Linked DNA regions of Homo sapiens. Changing the gene in region 2 together with the main gene of any one other region gives a genetic interaction. Each region holds a gene or a part of one and is shown on either strand. Other genes may lie near its edges.

The links.
Region 1: changes in NDUFS5 (region 2) and FLT3 together harm fitness less than expected from each alone (positive genetic interaction), as found in Homo sapiens cells (one study listed by BioGRID).

Annotation. Positions count from the first base shown.
Region 1 is NC_000013.11:28,027,543-28,034,994, forward strand, and holds part of FLT3 (receptor-type tyrosine-protein kinase FLT3 precursor), read right to left. Parts: intron 6,866-7,452; coding exon 6,759-6,865; intron 6,673-6,758; coding exon 6,540-6,672; intron 6,450-6,539; coding exon 6,345-6,449; intron 747-6,344; coding exon 636-746; intron 1-635. UniProt on the Homo sapiens protein: Tyrosine-protein kinase that acts as a cell-surface receptor for the cytokine FLT3LG and regulates differentiation, proliferation and survival of hematopoietic progenitor cells and of dendritic cells.
Region 2 is NC_000001.11:39,022,075-39,029,490, forward strand, and holds the start of NDUFS5 (NADH dehydrogenase [ubiquinone] iron-sulfur protein 5), read left to right. Parts: upstream 1-4,275; 5' UTR 4,276-4,328; intron 4,329-6,648; 5' UTR 6,649-6,650; coding exon 6,651-6,866; intron 6,867-7,416. UniProt on the Homo sapiens protein: Accessory subunit of the mitochondrial membrane respiratory chain NADH dehydrogenase (Complex I), that is believed not to be involved in catalysis. Complex I functions in the transfer of electrons from NADH to the respiratory chain.

The DNA.
Region 1 (7,452 bases), on a different chromosome or scaffold from region 2:
GTATTATAGGTGAACACTTGGTAACTATATGCTGATTTGCTGTTTGCTTGAGGAGGGAGAAATATATTCCCAGTCCTCTCTCAGATTCACTTTCCTCTTTTTCCTTTCTTTTAGTACCAGCCCCAGGCCTGCTGCTGCAGAAAGAATGAACCTTGGGCACATCATTTGGGTATTTCTAGGCAGAAGAGAGAAGATCAGAGGGCATGCCCCAGAGAATTCTGGGAAAGTAAAGTCTGATATCCTAGCTAGGCTGTGCCGTATTTGACGGCAGCCCAACTGGGGCAGTGGCCAGGCTCTGTAACCACTCTCACCACGCCTGTGCACCAGCTTCCAAGCTGGGAGAGAAGCACAGACACCACCAAATGTACTTGCAATGTTGTTGTTGTTGTTGTTTTTAAGCAGGTGAGAATTATGCAATATATCACGATAAAGCAGATGAATGAGGCATTCTTTATTTTGACCCCTCTGATTTATAGAGTGCTCAGTGTCTAATTCCACTTGGGTTTGAGAGTTCACACTGTGACTGAGAAAAGACAAAGAATTAAAAAGAGAGAGAGAGAGAGAGAGAGCAAACATCCTCTTTGTCATCAAGCTACAGTCTTTTTGATGAGGTGATTTTCGTGGAAGTGGGTTACCTGACAGTGTGCACGCCCCCAGCAGGTTCACAATATTCTCGTGGCTTCCCAGCTGGGTCATCATCTTGAGTTCTGACATGAGTGCCTCTCTTTCAGAGCTGTCTGCTTTTTCTGTCAAAGAAAGGAGCATTAAAAATGTAAAACTCAAGTAAAATACGAATTTTATGTCATTAAATAAAATTTTTCTCAGCTCAGAGTCAATCTGCATTATTTATTTAAATTCAAAATTATGAGAGAAGCCAGGCATGGTGGGTCATGCCTGTAATCCCAGCACTTTGGGAGGCCGAGGTGGGTGGATCACTTGAGGTCAGAAGTTCAAGACTGGCCTGGCCAATATGGTGAAACCTCGTCTCTACTAAAAATACAAAAATTAGCCAGGCGTGGTGGCAGGCACCTGTAATCCCAGCTACTTGGGAGGATGAGGCAGGAGAATCGCTTGAATGTGGGAGGCAGAGGTTGCAATTAGCTGAGACTGCACCATTGCACTCCAGCCTGGGCAACAAGAGTGAAACTCCATCTTAAAATAAATAAATAAATAAACAAACAAACAATATCCTGTGTTTTAAGACAGAATTTCTCCTTTTTCTTTTTTTTTTTTCCTTTTCTTTCTTTCTTTTTTTTTGACACAGTATCTCACTCTGTCACCCAGGCTGGAGTGTAGTGACATGATCTCAGCTTACTGTAGCCTCTGCCTCCTGGGCTCAAGTGATCCTCCTACCTCAGCCCTCCAAGTTACTGGTACTACAAGCACAGGCCATCATGCCCAGCTAATTTTTATATTTTTTGTAGAGATGGGGTCTCACCATGTTGCCCAGGCTGGTCTTGAACTCCTAGATTCAAGCAATCCTCCCAACTCCGCCTCCCAAAGTGCTGGGAATACAGGCATGAGCCACCATGCCCAGCCTAAGGCAGAATTCAGACTGTAGTATAGGGCTGGGCGCAGTGGCTCACACCTGTAATCCCAACACTTTGGGAGGCCAAGGCGGGTGGATCACTTAAGGTCAGGAGTTGAAGACCAACCTGGCCAACATGGTGAAACCCTGTCTCTACTAAACATACAAAAAATTAGCCGGGCGTGCCGGTGCGTACCTGTAATTCCAGCTACTCAGGAGGATGAGGCAAAAGAATCCCTTGAACTGGGGAGGCAGAGGTTGCAGTGAGCCGAGATTGAGCCCCTGCACCACTCCAGCCTGGGTGACAGAGCGAGACTCTGTCTCAAAAACAAAACAAAACAAAACAAAACAAAGACTATAGTATAAATGTTGAATCTGGTAATGCACCTTTCAACAGGACTTTCCTCTACCTACCAAAATAAAAATCCTTACAGTTGGCCCTCAAAACAAACAAACAAAATAATAACACATGCTTTTCCTCCTCAGTACAAGTTAACAGAAGGGAGAAACGTCCTTTTTGTTTGTTTGTTTGAACTCTTGGATCTGTTGTAGTCAGAGAGAGATAACAGTGTCGTGAGCATGGTTGACTCTAGCCTGTGGCCCTCAGGTCTAGAACATTAGATTTGCCAGCAAGTCCAATGGGAGAAGGTCAAAGAGGACTAATTCCCACTATCAGGTGCTCAAGAGACCCATTAATTGACATTGAGAAATAAAACTGCCAAGCAGGCTAGAACATATTGGTTGGCCAATGCATTCTCTCTCTAGGGAAAATTCCAGATAGCTCAGCAAACTGTACTTATAAGCTGACTTAGAAGCACAGTGTGAGGAAAGTCACTATGGAATCCAAGGGCTCCCGTCATTGCGGCTCATGTGCAGTTGGTCAGGGCAGCCCGGGCAGCCACAGGGGCAAGGGCAGGGTCTCTGGACTTCCCTCTCCAGGCTCCAGGCACCACCCCTCTGTGAACAGACTTTTTCTTCCAGATATAGTAACTCTTCTTTACATTCAGTGAAGATTTGGTTCGATTGCCAGGTTCCATTATTTTGTCCAGGAAGGCATCCTAACCTTTATAGTGGCTTCTCCGGTGCTGACATCCTCTATTTTGGTTTGGGCAAGCTCTCAGGGGTATCCTTGTTTCCAAGATTTTAGCTTGGGGGTGGGATTTCCTGTGGGCACTGGGACCCCCTAATACATCATGTCTTCAGCTTCACGCTGGACAGGGATTCGGGGCTTTACTTGTTCATGTCCTATTCCTCATGGCTAAAATAATATCTTACATTTTTTAGCATGCTTAGCTTCTTCTAAGCATTTTCATGTACCATTACCTCTTTCATTCAGTCATTCAACAAGTATTTATTGAGTGCCTACTCTGTAAGAGCCAATGTCCTAGACACTGGGGAATGAAGGAAAAACAAGACACAACCCTTGTCTTCCTGGATCTTAGAGTCTCCTGGAGAAGGCAGAGAAGTAAATAAGCCATGACAATACAGTGCCATAAATGCAATACGGCAGGCAAGACGTGGGTCCCCGCGCCTCTAATCCCAACATCTTGGGAGGCTGAGACAAGCGGGAGAATTGCTGGTACCCAGAAGTTCAAGAAAGGCCCGGGCAAAATAGCAAGAGCTTGTCTCTACTTAAAAATAAAATAAAGTAAAAATACATAAATAAATAAAATAAAATAAAATAAAAATTAGCTGGGCTTGGTGGTGCCTGCATGTAGTTCCAGTTACTGGAAAGGCTGCAGACCATCACTTGAGCCCAGGACTTGAAGCTTGCCGTGAGCTATGATGACTTCACTGCACTCCAGCCTGGGTGACAGAGTGAGACCCTATCTCAAAAAAAGAAAAAAGAAAGAAAAAGAAAAAATGCAACGTTGGGCTGGGCACGGTGGCTCATGCCTGTAATCCCAGCACTTTGGGAGGCTGAGACAGGCGGATCACGAGGTCAGGAGATCAAGACCATCCTGGCTAACACGGTGAAACTCTGTCTCTACTAAAAATACAAAAAAATTTAGCCGGGCGTGGTGGTGGGTGCCTGTAGTCCCAGCTGCTAGGGAGGCTGAGGCAGGAGAATGGCGTGAACCCAGGAGGCGGAGCTTACAGTGAGCTGAGATGGTGCCACTGCACTCCAGCCTGGGCGACAGAGTGAGACTCCGTCTCAAAAAAAGAAGAAAAAATGCAACGTGGCAAAGGAGTGCAGGGGTACTGTAGGGTCAAAAGGGATAGCTACCTTAGCCTTGGAGGGGTGGAGAAAGGAGCATTCAATGTCTAAACTGAGTCCTGAAGAAAAATGGGAGCTGGCCAGGTGACTCATGGTGGAAGGGGAGGAGAACAGTGCTGAGGGTTGTGAAAGAGTGGGCAAAGGTCGAGAAAGGAGAGAGCACAGCACCACAGACACAGACCCTGCCCTCATGAGGCACAGGGGCTACTGGACAGATGGGACAACAATTGGATGTTAAAAAATGTCATGACAAAGGTGATGGATTCTACGGGGGAAAGCCTGCAGAGAGCTAATGTCGCACATTGCAAGGGCCTCAATATTGTCTGTGGTGTGAGACAGAGGAAGTGGTGTTTAAGCTGAGATCTGAGGGGGCAGTGGGAGATACTTACATGAAAGGGGAAGGGGAAGCAGAAGGATCCACTTGTGCAAAGGCCCCACAGTGGGTGGGAGGACAGTGCTGGGGGAACTGAAAGAAGGCCAGCGCTCTGGGGTGCCGAGAGCAAGAGGTGGGGAGGCAGCGGTGGCCCAGCCATGCGGGTGGTGGAGGAAATGTGAAGTAGGAAAGCCATTTGATCTGCTTAGCCTTTCGCCACTGTCACTTGGACCTCAGTATGGAGAAGCCAAAGGGAGGCAAGAGTGGATACAGGAACCTGCTTTGGAAGCTTTTGTCCAGGAGAGAGCCTTGAACTAGAGTGGTGGTCATAGAGATGGAGGGACGAGGATGGAATCAAGAGACACTAATCGGAAACCTGATAGGATTAGCTCACAGGGTGTTAGAAAGAGGAAGGTGTCAAGGAAAAGTCACGGGTTTCTAGTGTGCCCAACTATATAGAATGTGGTTATTTATTCACTGGCATTCATTACCAGTCACAGAGAGGACTGCTGGTGCAGGGCCAGGGTTAGGGGAATTCACCTTGCATACACTGTGTTAAAGGGACCTTTGAGACATCCAAACATTTAACATATGAACCTGAAGCTCCGAAAGGAGACGCAAGCATGAGGGCCCTTGGTGTATGGGAGGACATCACGGGTGTAGTGGGGATGGACTGTGTTGAGTGTGTGGAGCGAAAACGCAAGGCGGTCCAGGAGCAAGCCCACAGGGATGCCCCATAAAAAGCTGGATGGAGCCTGGGCAACATGGCGAAGCCCCATCTCTACCAAAAATACAAAAATTAGCCAGGCATGGTGGCGCATGCCTGTAGTCCCCCCTACTCAGGGGCCTGAAGTGGGAGGATGGCTTGAGCCTGGGAAGTGGAGGTTGCAGTGAGCTGAGATCACACCACTGCACTCCAGCCTGGGCAACAGAGCAAGGCTGTGTTTCAAAATCAGCCACAACAACAAAAGCTGGATGGAAGAAGATGAGCCCACAAAGGACTGAGTTTCAAAATCAGCCACAACAACAAAAGCTGGATGGAAGAAGATGAGCCCACAAAGGACTGAGAAGGGCAGAGGGGTGGGAGGAAAACCAGAATATGGTGACACAAAACCCAAAGAAAGAAAGCTTCTGGATGGAGAGAAGAATCAACAGCATCAATTCATGCTGAACAATCAAGTAATGAGGACTGAAAAATATCCATTAGGCTTGGTTTGGTTTGAAGTCACTGTTGACCTTAGCAAGAGAGCCAGCTGGAGATGCTTTTGCTGGGTCAGCGGTGGTAACGGTGAGGCCAGCAATGGGGCTGGACGCCAGATCGGAATGGATGGAGCAACGAAGTGAGGATACAAAGGGCCCCAGTTTTCTCTCCTACCCAGAGTCTGTTTCAACCCACACCTGTAATCCCAGCACTTTAGGAGGCCAAGGCAGCCTCACTTGAGCCAGGAGTTTGCAACCATCCTGGGCAATATGGTGAGACACCGTATCTACAAAAAAAAAAAAAAATTAGCCAATTGTCTTGGCACACTCCTGTGAGGCTGAGGTGAGAGCATTGCTAGAGCCAAGGAGGTCGAGGCTGCAGTGAGCTATGATCACAGCACTCTAGCCTGGGTAACAGAGCAAGATCCTGTCTCTAAAAATAAAACAACACAAATGTAAGAAAGAACTTCTGCCTGTGGCAACTGTATCCCCAAATATCAAAGCCTATAAAAACTAAATAGGCCTGGCACAGTGGCTCACGCCTGTAATCCCAACACTTTGGGAGGCCGAGGCGGGCAGATAGTTTGAGCTCAGGAGTCCCAGATCAGCCTAGGCAACATGGTGAAACCCCGTCTCTACCAAAAATAAAAAACTTAGCTGAGCGTGGTGGTGCACGCCTGTAGCCCCAGCTGCTGAGGAGCCTGAGCCCAGGGGGTGGAGGCTGCAGTGAGCCATGATCACACTACTGTACTCCAGCCTAGGTGACAGAGTGAGACCCTGTCTCAAAAAAATAAAAGAAAATAAAAATAAACAAAGAGAGAAGTGGAAGAAGAGGTGGAGTTTTGTATTTATGACTTGAATTTTGTATTCATGACTGGGTTGACACCCCAATCCACTCCATTTTTAGCCTTGAAACATGGCAAACAGTAACCATTAAAAGGATGGAAAAGAGAAGAAGGCATGGGTGGGAAACTGTGCCTCCCATTTTTGTGCATCTTTGTTGCTGTCCTTCCACTATACTGTACCTTTCAGCATTTTGACGGCAACCTGGATTGAGACTCCTGTTTTGCTAATTCCATAAGCTGTTGCGTTCATCACTTTTCCAAAAGCACCTGATCCTAGTACCTTCCCTGCAAAGACAAATGGTGAGTACGTGCATTTTAAAGATTTTCCAATGGAAAAGAAATGCTGCAGAAACATTTGGCACATTCCATTCTTACCAAACTCTAAATTTTCTCTTGGAAACTCCCATTTGAGATCATATTCATATTCTCTGAAATCAACGTAGAAGTACTCATTATCTGAGGAGCCGGTCACCTGTACCATCTGTAGCTGGCTTTCATACCTAAATTGCTTCAGAGATGAAATGATGAGTCAGTTAGGAATAGGCAGTTCTGCAGATAGAGGAAAGAATAATGAATTTTTACCTTTGCTTTTACCTTTTTGTACTTGTGACAAATTAGCAGGGTTAAAACGACAATGAAGAGGAGACAAACACCAATTGTTGCATAGAATGAGATGTTGTCTTGGATGAAAGGGAAGGGGCCTGCAACAAAAGAGTGTCACTCAGCGATGAAACAGAATTCCTGTGTGACATTATAAATAGTGGACAACTCATTATAATCTCTCACATCCTGTTTCAGTAATAATCATTTTCAGTCCTAACAACCACTCTACATATACTCTACTCCCCACAGACAATCAGGCAATGTCCCTGTAAAGGATACATTTCCTCCCTAGAAAATTGCGGATTATTCTCAATCCATTCTTTAAAACCATTTACTAGGGTAAATTTACAAGAATTACATCTGGTCCAGGCACGATGGCTCACGCCTGTAGTCCCAGCACTTTGGGAGGCCAAGATGGGAGGATCACTTGAGTCCAAGAATTAGACACCAGCCCAGGCAACACAGTGAAATCCCGTCTCTAAAAAAATTCAAAAATTAGCTGGGCGTGGTGGCAGGTGCCTGTAATCCCAGCTGCTCGGGAGGCTGAGGCAGGAGAATCGCTTGAACCCTGGCAGAGGTGAGCCAAGATCACGCCACTGCACTGCAGCCTGGGTGACAGAGCGAGTCTCCATCTCAAAAAAAAAAATGCATGGATTTAAACCTACAGGATGTACAAGTCAGAGAA
Region 2 (7,416 bases):
TTGAGGCACTATGAAGGATAAGACATTAGTTTGAAAAGAGCCCCTATAAGAGTAACATGAATTCTGCTAAAATTGAAGCAAGAACAAATATCAAGTTTATGGTTAAGCTTGGGTGGAAGAATGGTGAGATCATTGAAGCTTTACGAAAAGCTTATGGGGACAATGCCTCAAAGAAATCAGCAGTTTACAAATAGATAAATTGTTTTTTGTTGTTGTTTTTTGAGAGGGAGTCTCACTCTGTCACCCAGGCTGGAGTGCAGTGGCATGATCTAGGCTCGCTGCAGCCTCTGCCTCCCACGTTCCAGTGATTCTCCTGCCTCAGCCTCCCTGGGTAGCTGGGATTACAGGCGCCTGCCACCACGCCCGGCTAATTTTTGTATTTTTAGTAGAGATGGGGTTTTGCCATGTTGGCCAGGCTGGTCTTGAACTCCTGACCTCAGGTGATACACCTGCCTCGGCCTCCCAAAGTGCTGGGATTACAAGCATGAGCCACCGCACGTGGCCAGATAATTTGTTTTAAGAAGGGATGAGATTAGGCCGGGCTGTGCCTCTACTACAGACTCCTAGTATTTATTTTCTTTAAGAATACTTGGCCAGGCGTGGTGGCTCATGCCTGTAATCTCAGCACTTTGAGATGCTGAGGCAGGCGAATCACCTGAGGTCAGGAGTTCAAGACCAGCCTGGCCAACATGGTGAAACCCCGTCTCCACCAAAAATACAAAAATTAGCTGGGCATTGTGGTGGGCTCTTATAATCCCAGCTACCTGGGAAGGCTGAGGCAGGAGAACTGCTTGAACCCAAGAGGCGGAGGTTGCAGTGAGCCGAGACCACGCCATTGCACTCCAGCCTGGGCGACAGAGCAAGACTCCATCTCCAAAAAGAAACAAAATAAAGAAGGGATGAAATGATGTTGAAGATGAAACCCACAGTGGCAGACCATCCACATCAATTTATGAGAAAAACATTTTGTGTCCTAACTGAAGTGGATTGACAACAGCAGAAATAATAATCAATACCATAGGCATCTCACTTGGTTCGGCTTACATAATTCTGACTGAAAAACTAAAGTTGAGCAAACATTCCACTTGGCAGGTGCCAAACCATCATGCCCAGATCAGCTGCAGAGCTTTCAATGGGAATTTTAAACAAGCAGGATGAAGATCCTGAAGCATTTCTTTGAAGAATTGTAATAGGAGATGAAACATGGCTTTACCAGTACAATCCTAAAGACAATGCACAATCAAAGCAATGGCTACCAAGAGGTGGAAGTGTCTGGTCAAAGCAAAAGTGGACCAGTCAAGAGCAAAGGTCATGTCATTCGTTTTTTTTTTTTTAATGTTCAAGGCATTTTGTTTATTGACTTTCTGGAGGGCCAAAGAACAATAACATCTGCTTATTATGAGAGTGTTTTGAGAAAACTAGCAAAAGTTTTAGCAGAAAAATGCCTGGGAAAGCTTCACCAGAGTCATTCTCCGCTATAACAATGTTCCTGCTCATTTCTCTCAGCAAACAAGGGCAATTTTGCAAGAGTTTTGATGGGAAATCATTAGGCATCCACCTTACAGTACTGATCTGGCTCCTTCTGACTTCCTTTTGCCTTTTTTTTTTTTTTTTTTGGAGACAGAGTTTTGCTTTTGTTGCCCAGGCTGGAGTGCAATGGTGCGATCTCGGCTCCCTGCAACCTCTGCCTCTCCAGTTCAAGCGATGCTCCTGCCTCAGCCTCCTAAGTAGCTGGGATTACAGGTGCCTGCCACCACACCTGGCTAATTTTTTGTATTTTTAGTAGAGACAGGGTATCACCATGTTGGTCAGGCTGGTCTTGAACTCCTGAACTCAGGTGATCTGCCTGCCTCAGCCTCCCAAAATGCTGGGATTACAGGCATTAGCCACTGCACCTGGCCCTTGTTTTCTAATCTTAAAAAACTCTTTCAAGGGCACCCCATTTTTTCTTAGGTTAATAATGTATAAAAGAGGCTGCCTTATCCTTACAAGCAGCCTGCCCTCAACTCTCTCTCAGAGTGTTAAAAAAAAATGTATAAAAGGGCCAGGCATGGTGGCTCATGCCTGTAATCTCAGCACATTGGGAGGCCCAGGCAGGAGGATCACTTGAGCCCAGGAGCTGGAGACCAGCCTGGGAAACATAAAGAGATACTGATCTCCACAAAAAATTTTTTTAAAGAATTAGCTTGGCCGGGCGCAGTGGTTCACGCCTGTAATCCCAGCACTTTGGGAGGCTGAGGCGGGCAGATCACGAAGTCAACAGATCTAGACCATCCTAGCCAATATGGTGAAACCTCGTCTCTACTAAAAAAAAATACAAAAATCAGCTGGGAGTGGTGGCGCACACCTGTAGTCCCAGCTATTCAGGAGGCTGAGGCAGGAGAATCGCTTGAACCTGGGAGGTGGAGGTTGCAGTGAGCCAAGATTGCACCACTGCATTTCAGCCTGGTGACAGAGTGAAGCTCTGTCTCAAAAAAAAAAAAAAAAAAAGAATTAGCTGGGCACAGTGGCATGTCTGTAGTCCCAGCTACTTGGGAGGCTAAGCAGGAGGATTGCTTGAGCCCTGGAGTTTGAGGCTGCAGTGATCTATGATAGCACTACTGCACTCCAGCCTGGGTGATGGAGTGAGACCCTATCTCAAATAAAATAATAATTATAATAAAGACTGCCAGGCACATGGTGGCATGCACATGTGGTCCCAGCTATTTGGGAGGCTGAGGTGGGAGGATCACCAGAGCCCAGGGAGGTTGAGGCTGCAGTGAACTGTGATTGCACCACTGCACTCCAGCGGGGCAATGGGAGTGAGAATCTGTCTCAAAAGTAATAATTATATATATATATATTTATATATATATATATATATATATATATATATATATATATATATATGTTCTAGTATTTTCCTCCCATACCTCCAATGTATAATATCTCATGCACCCTGTGGTCCACCCCCCAAAGACATACACACAACACTTTAGAGTCTCTGATGTAGTCAAAGGGAGTCATTGGAGGTTCTGGAACAGATGACAGGCATGGTAGCAGTTGATTCACAAACTGAAAGCTGAGACATCAAAGAACTGCGACTGCCTTGGAATGTTTCCCATGTGCTAGCCACCGCCTCAGTGCTTTATACATAAATCAGTTAATCCCTATAGCAAGCCTCCATTGTGAATACCATAATTATCTTAACAGACGAGGAGACTGAGGCACAATGAAGTTAAGAAACTTTCCTAGAGTCACACGAAATTGGTGGGGGCCTACTTTTTTTTTTTTTTTTTTTTTTTTTTTTTTTTTTTTTTGAGACTGAATCTAGCTCTGTCGCCAGGCTGGAGTCCAGTGGCGCGATCTCACCTCACTGCAACCTCCGCCTCCCGGATTCAAGCGATTCTCCTGCCTCGGCCTCCCCCCACTAGCTGGGATTACAGGCACTCGCTGCCACACCCAGCTAATTTTTGTATTTTTAGTAGAGACAGGGTTTCACCATATTGGCCAGGATGGTCTCGATCTCCTGAGCTTGTGATCCGCCCACCTCGGCCTCCCATAGTGCTGGGATTACAGGCCTGAGCCACTGCGCCCGGCTGGGGGCCTACATTTGACCCCACGTGGTGGTTTGGGCTCATAGTCCATGTGCTTAACCACTAGTGGGTAGGCAGGGAGCCAGTGTTCTTTCTCTCCTGTGACTTTGGTGAAGTCTCTCACCACTCAGTGTTGTCGTGAGCATGCTAGGCAGAGTGCAAGAAAGGAGCAAGAACTCACTAATGGCTAGGCCTTCCCTGTGTCTCTGTAATTGATGGGTTTGGGTTTTTTTTCCTTTCTCTCTCTCTACCTCCTCTCTCTCTTCTTCATCCTCTCTCTCTCACTCTCCCCCTGAGATAAGGTCTTGCTCTGTTGCCAGGGCTGGAATGCAATGGAATGGTGTGATCATGGCTCACTACAGCCTCAATCTCCTGGGCTCAAGGGATCCTCCCACCTCAACCTCCTGAGTAGCTGGAACCACAGGCATGCACCACCTCGCCCGGCTAATTTTTTATTTTTTGTAGAGAGGGGAGTTTCGCCATGTTGCCCAGGCTGTTTTCGAACTCCTGGGCTGAAGTGATCTTCCTCCCTCAGCCTTCCAAGGTGCTGGGATTGCAGACGTCAGCCACCGTACCAGGCCAACGGGCTCGGTTTCTATGGTTTTGTGGGGAGACGGCTGAGGGAAGGTCGGCTTCCGGCGTCGCGCTGCAAACGTCTCGCTGAGGTCATCCTTTACGGCAGGCGTCCGCGTCGCTAGCTAGTCGTTCTGAAGCGGCGGCCAGAGAAGAGTCAAGGGCACGAGCATCGGGTAGGTAGGGGCTGCTTATGTCCGCGCGGCAGCTTAGCTTAAGGACCTTCCTTCCGAGGTCTCTTTAACAGATTTCCTCTTGGCTTGCTGTGTGTCCCCTTCTCCCAGACCTGAACTCAGGGCGTGTTCCCTGCCCTCCCAGGCCGCTTCACCTCCACAGCTAATGGCACCGAAGCCTGGAGATTGCCGCTCTCTCCACTTTCCACATTTGTTTAGGTTTTTGCCGGACTAATGTTTTGGCTTTCTGTTTCTTAACCTAAAGTCTACGATCCTTATCCCAGCTTTCCAGGCTCTGCGTGATTTCGGCCCCGCCGGCCTCCTGAGCTCATTTCATTCTTTTCACCGTCATGCACGCTGCGCTCCATTGTCCCCCAAACATAGCCAGCACTTCCGGCTGTAACTCCGGGCTGTTGCCCAACTGGAACACTCTGCCCACTGATCTTCACTTGGCGAACTCGCAAGCCATGTTAAAGGCATTTTCAAGTCTCCGGGCAGAGTTCGTGCTTCCTCCTTCGAGCTCTTACCCACTCGTGTTCCTTGCAGTGTATTCGCAATTCCGAGTGTGTGTCTCTGGTGCTTACGTTGGAGCTGCTTTCCCCCGCATCTGAGTGCCTGGAACGTAACTACTCAGTAAATGATGACTGAGGGATGGGAAGGAACTTAAGAAGTTAAATTCACCTTTTTGTTGAGATGGAGTTTCGCTCTTGTTGCCCAGGCTGGAGTGCAGAGTGGCGCGATCTCGGCTCACTGCAGCCTCTGCCTCCCGGATTCAAGCGATTCTCCTCCCTGAGACTCCCGAGTAGCTGGGATTACAGGCATGCGCCCCCACGCCCGGCTAATTTTGTATTTTTTTAGTAGAGAGAGGGTTTCGCCATGTTGGTCAGGCTGGTCTTGAACTCGCGGCCTCAGGTGATCCGCCCGCCTCGGCCTCCCAAGGTGCTGGAATTACAGGCGTGAGCCACTGCGCCCAACTAAATTCACCTTTAAATCTACCATGAGTACACATTTATATTGATATTTGTGGGTGTGCGCGCGCTTCCTTTCAGTCATTTTAGGCAGTCAGGGTTTGTTTTTGTGTGTGTGTTTTTACATTTAACATTATTATGTATTTGCATGTAAATTTTTTTCCCTACTGTCTGTAATAGTCTACAAAGTAAGTCTTAACCCATTTCTTTCGCTCTGGTTTTTTTTTTTTTTTGAGACAGGATCTCGCTTTGTTGCCCAGGATGGAGTGCAGTGGCCAGGTCATAGCTCACTGAAGCCTTGAACTCCTGGCCTCAGTCTCCTGCCTCAGCCTTAGGAGTAGCTGGGACTACAGGCGCACATACCACCACAAGTGCCTTTTTTTTTTTTTTTTTTTTTTTTTGAGACAGAGAACCTGACCAAAGGATCCAAATTCTTTTTTTCTTCTTCTTCTTTTTTTTTTTTTTTTTTTTTTGAGACAGAGTCTCGCTCTGTCGCCCAGGCTGGAGTACAATGGCGGATCTTGGCTTATTGCAACCTCTGTCTCCCCAGTTCAAGCAGTTCTCCTGTCTCAGCCTCCCGAATAGTTGGGATTACAGGCATGTGCCAACACGCCCAGCTAATTTTTTTGTATTTTTAGTAGAGACGGGATTTCACCATATTGGCCAGGCTGGTCTTGAACTCCTGACCTCAGGTAATCCACCCGCCTTGGCCTCCCAAAGTTCTGGGATTACAGGCATGAGCCACCGCGCCTGGCCCACAAGTGGCTGATTTAAAAAAAAAATTTAGGCCAGGTGCAGTGGCTCACACCTGTAATCCCAGCACTTTGGGAGGCCAAGGCGGGCGGATCACCTGAGGTCAGGAGTTCAAGACCAGCCTCGCCAACATGCTGAAACCCCATCTCTACTAAAAATACAAAAATTAGCTGGGCGTGGTGGTGCGCACCTGTAGTCCCAGCTACTTGGGAGGCTGAGGCAGGAGAATCGCTTGAACCCTGGAGGAGGAGGTTGCAGTGAGCCAAGATTGCACCATGCGCTGCAGCCTGGGTAACAGACGGAGACTCCATCTCACGTGGTAGGTGAGCCACCGCTCCTGACCGAGAAAGGATTTCTATGCATTGTTCTTTAGTTATAGTTCTCTTTTCCTTGAGTTTTGAAAAAGCGCAAAAACTGCTTATCTGCCATAAACTGGAAGAACCTATTTAATGAAAAAGTTTGGTGAGAAGAAATCAGGAGAATAATATCAAACAGTGTTCTAGAGGGCTACTTAGCATGATTATCTAATTTTTTCTTAGAAATTTCTCAGTTGATTGCCCTCTTGTGGTATTTTATTTACTTATTTTTTTAAATCTTCCATTACAGCCATGCCTTTCTTGGACATCCAGAAAAGGTTCGGCCTTAACATAGATCGATGGTTGACAATCCAGAGTGGTGAACAGCCCTACAAGATGGCTGGTCGATGCCATGCTTTTGAAAAAGAATGGATAGAATGTGCACATGGAATCGGTTATACTCGGGCAGAGAAAGAGTGCAAGATAGAATATGATGATTTCGTAGAGTGTTTGCTTCGGCAGAAAACGGTAAGGAAATGATGGAGGTGGAAGCTGAATTACTTTCTTGTTCCTTTGGGACTCTTTTTTTTTTTTTTTGAGACGAAGTCTCACTCTTGTCCCCTAGGCTGGTGTGTGATGGCGCCACCTCGTCTCACTGTAGCCTCTGCCTCCCAGGTTCAGGCGATTCGCGTACCTCAGCCTCCCGAGTAGCTGGGATTATAGGCACCTGCCACCACGCCTGGCTAATTTTTGTATTTTTAGTAGAAACGGGATTTCACCATGCTGGCCAGGCTGGTCTTGAACTCCAGACCTCAGGTGATCCGCCCCCCTCAGCCTCCCAAAGTAGTGGGATCACAGGCATGAGCCACCGTGCCTGGCCTCCTCTGGGATTACTCTTAAGTGTTTTTAGTGGGTCATTGAGCAGTGGCTTGCCAAATGTGAATTGGCAAAGCTTTTCTGGTGAAATACCTTTCCTACTTTGGTACCATGATGAGGAAATTAAATGCCTTCAGATATGAGGATGGTCCATTGTTCCTCAGCATTCTTTCTCTTCTCCCAAATTTTCCTTAGTATTTTA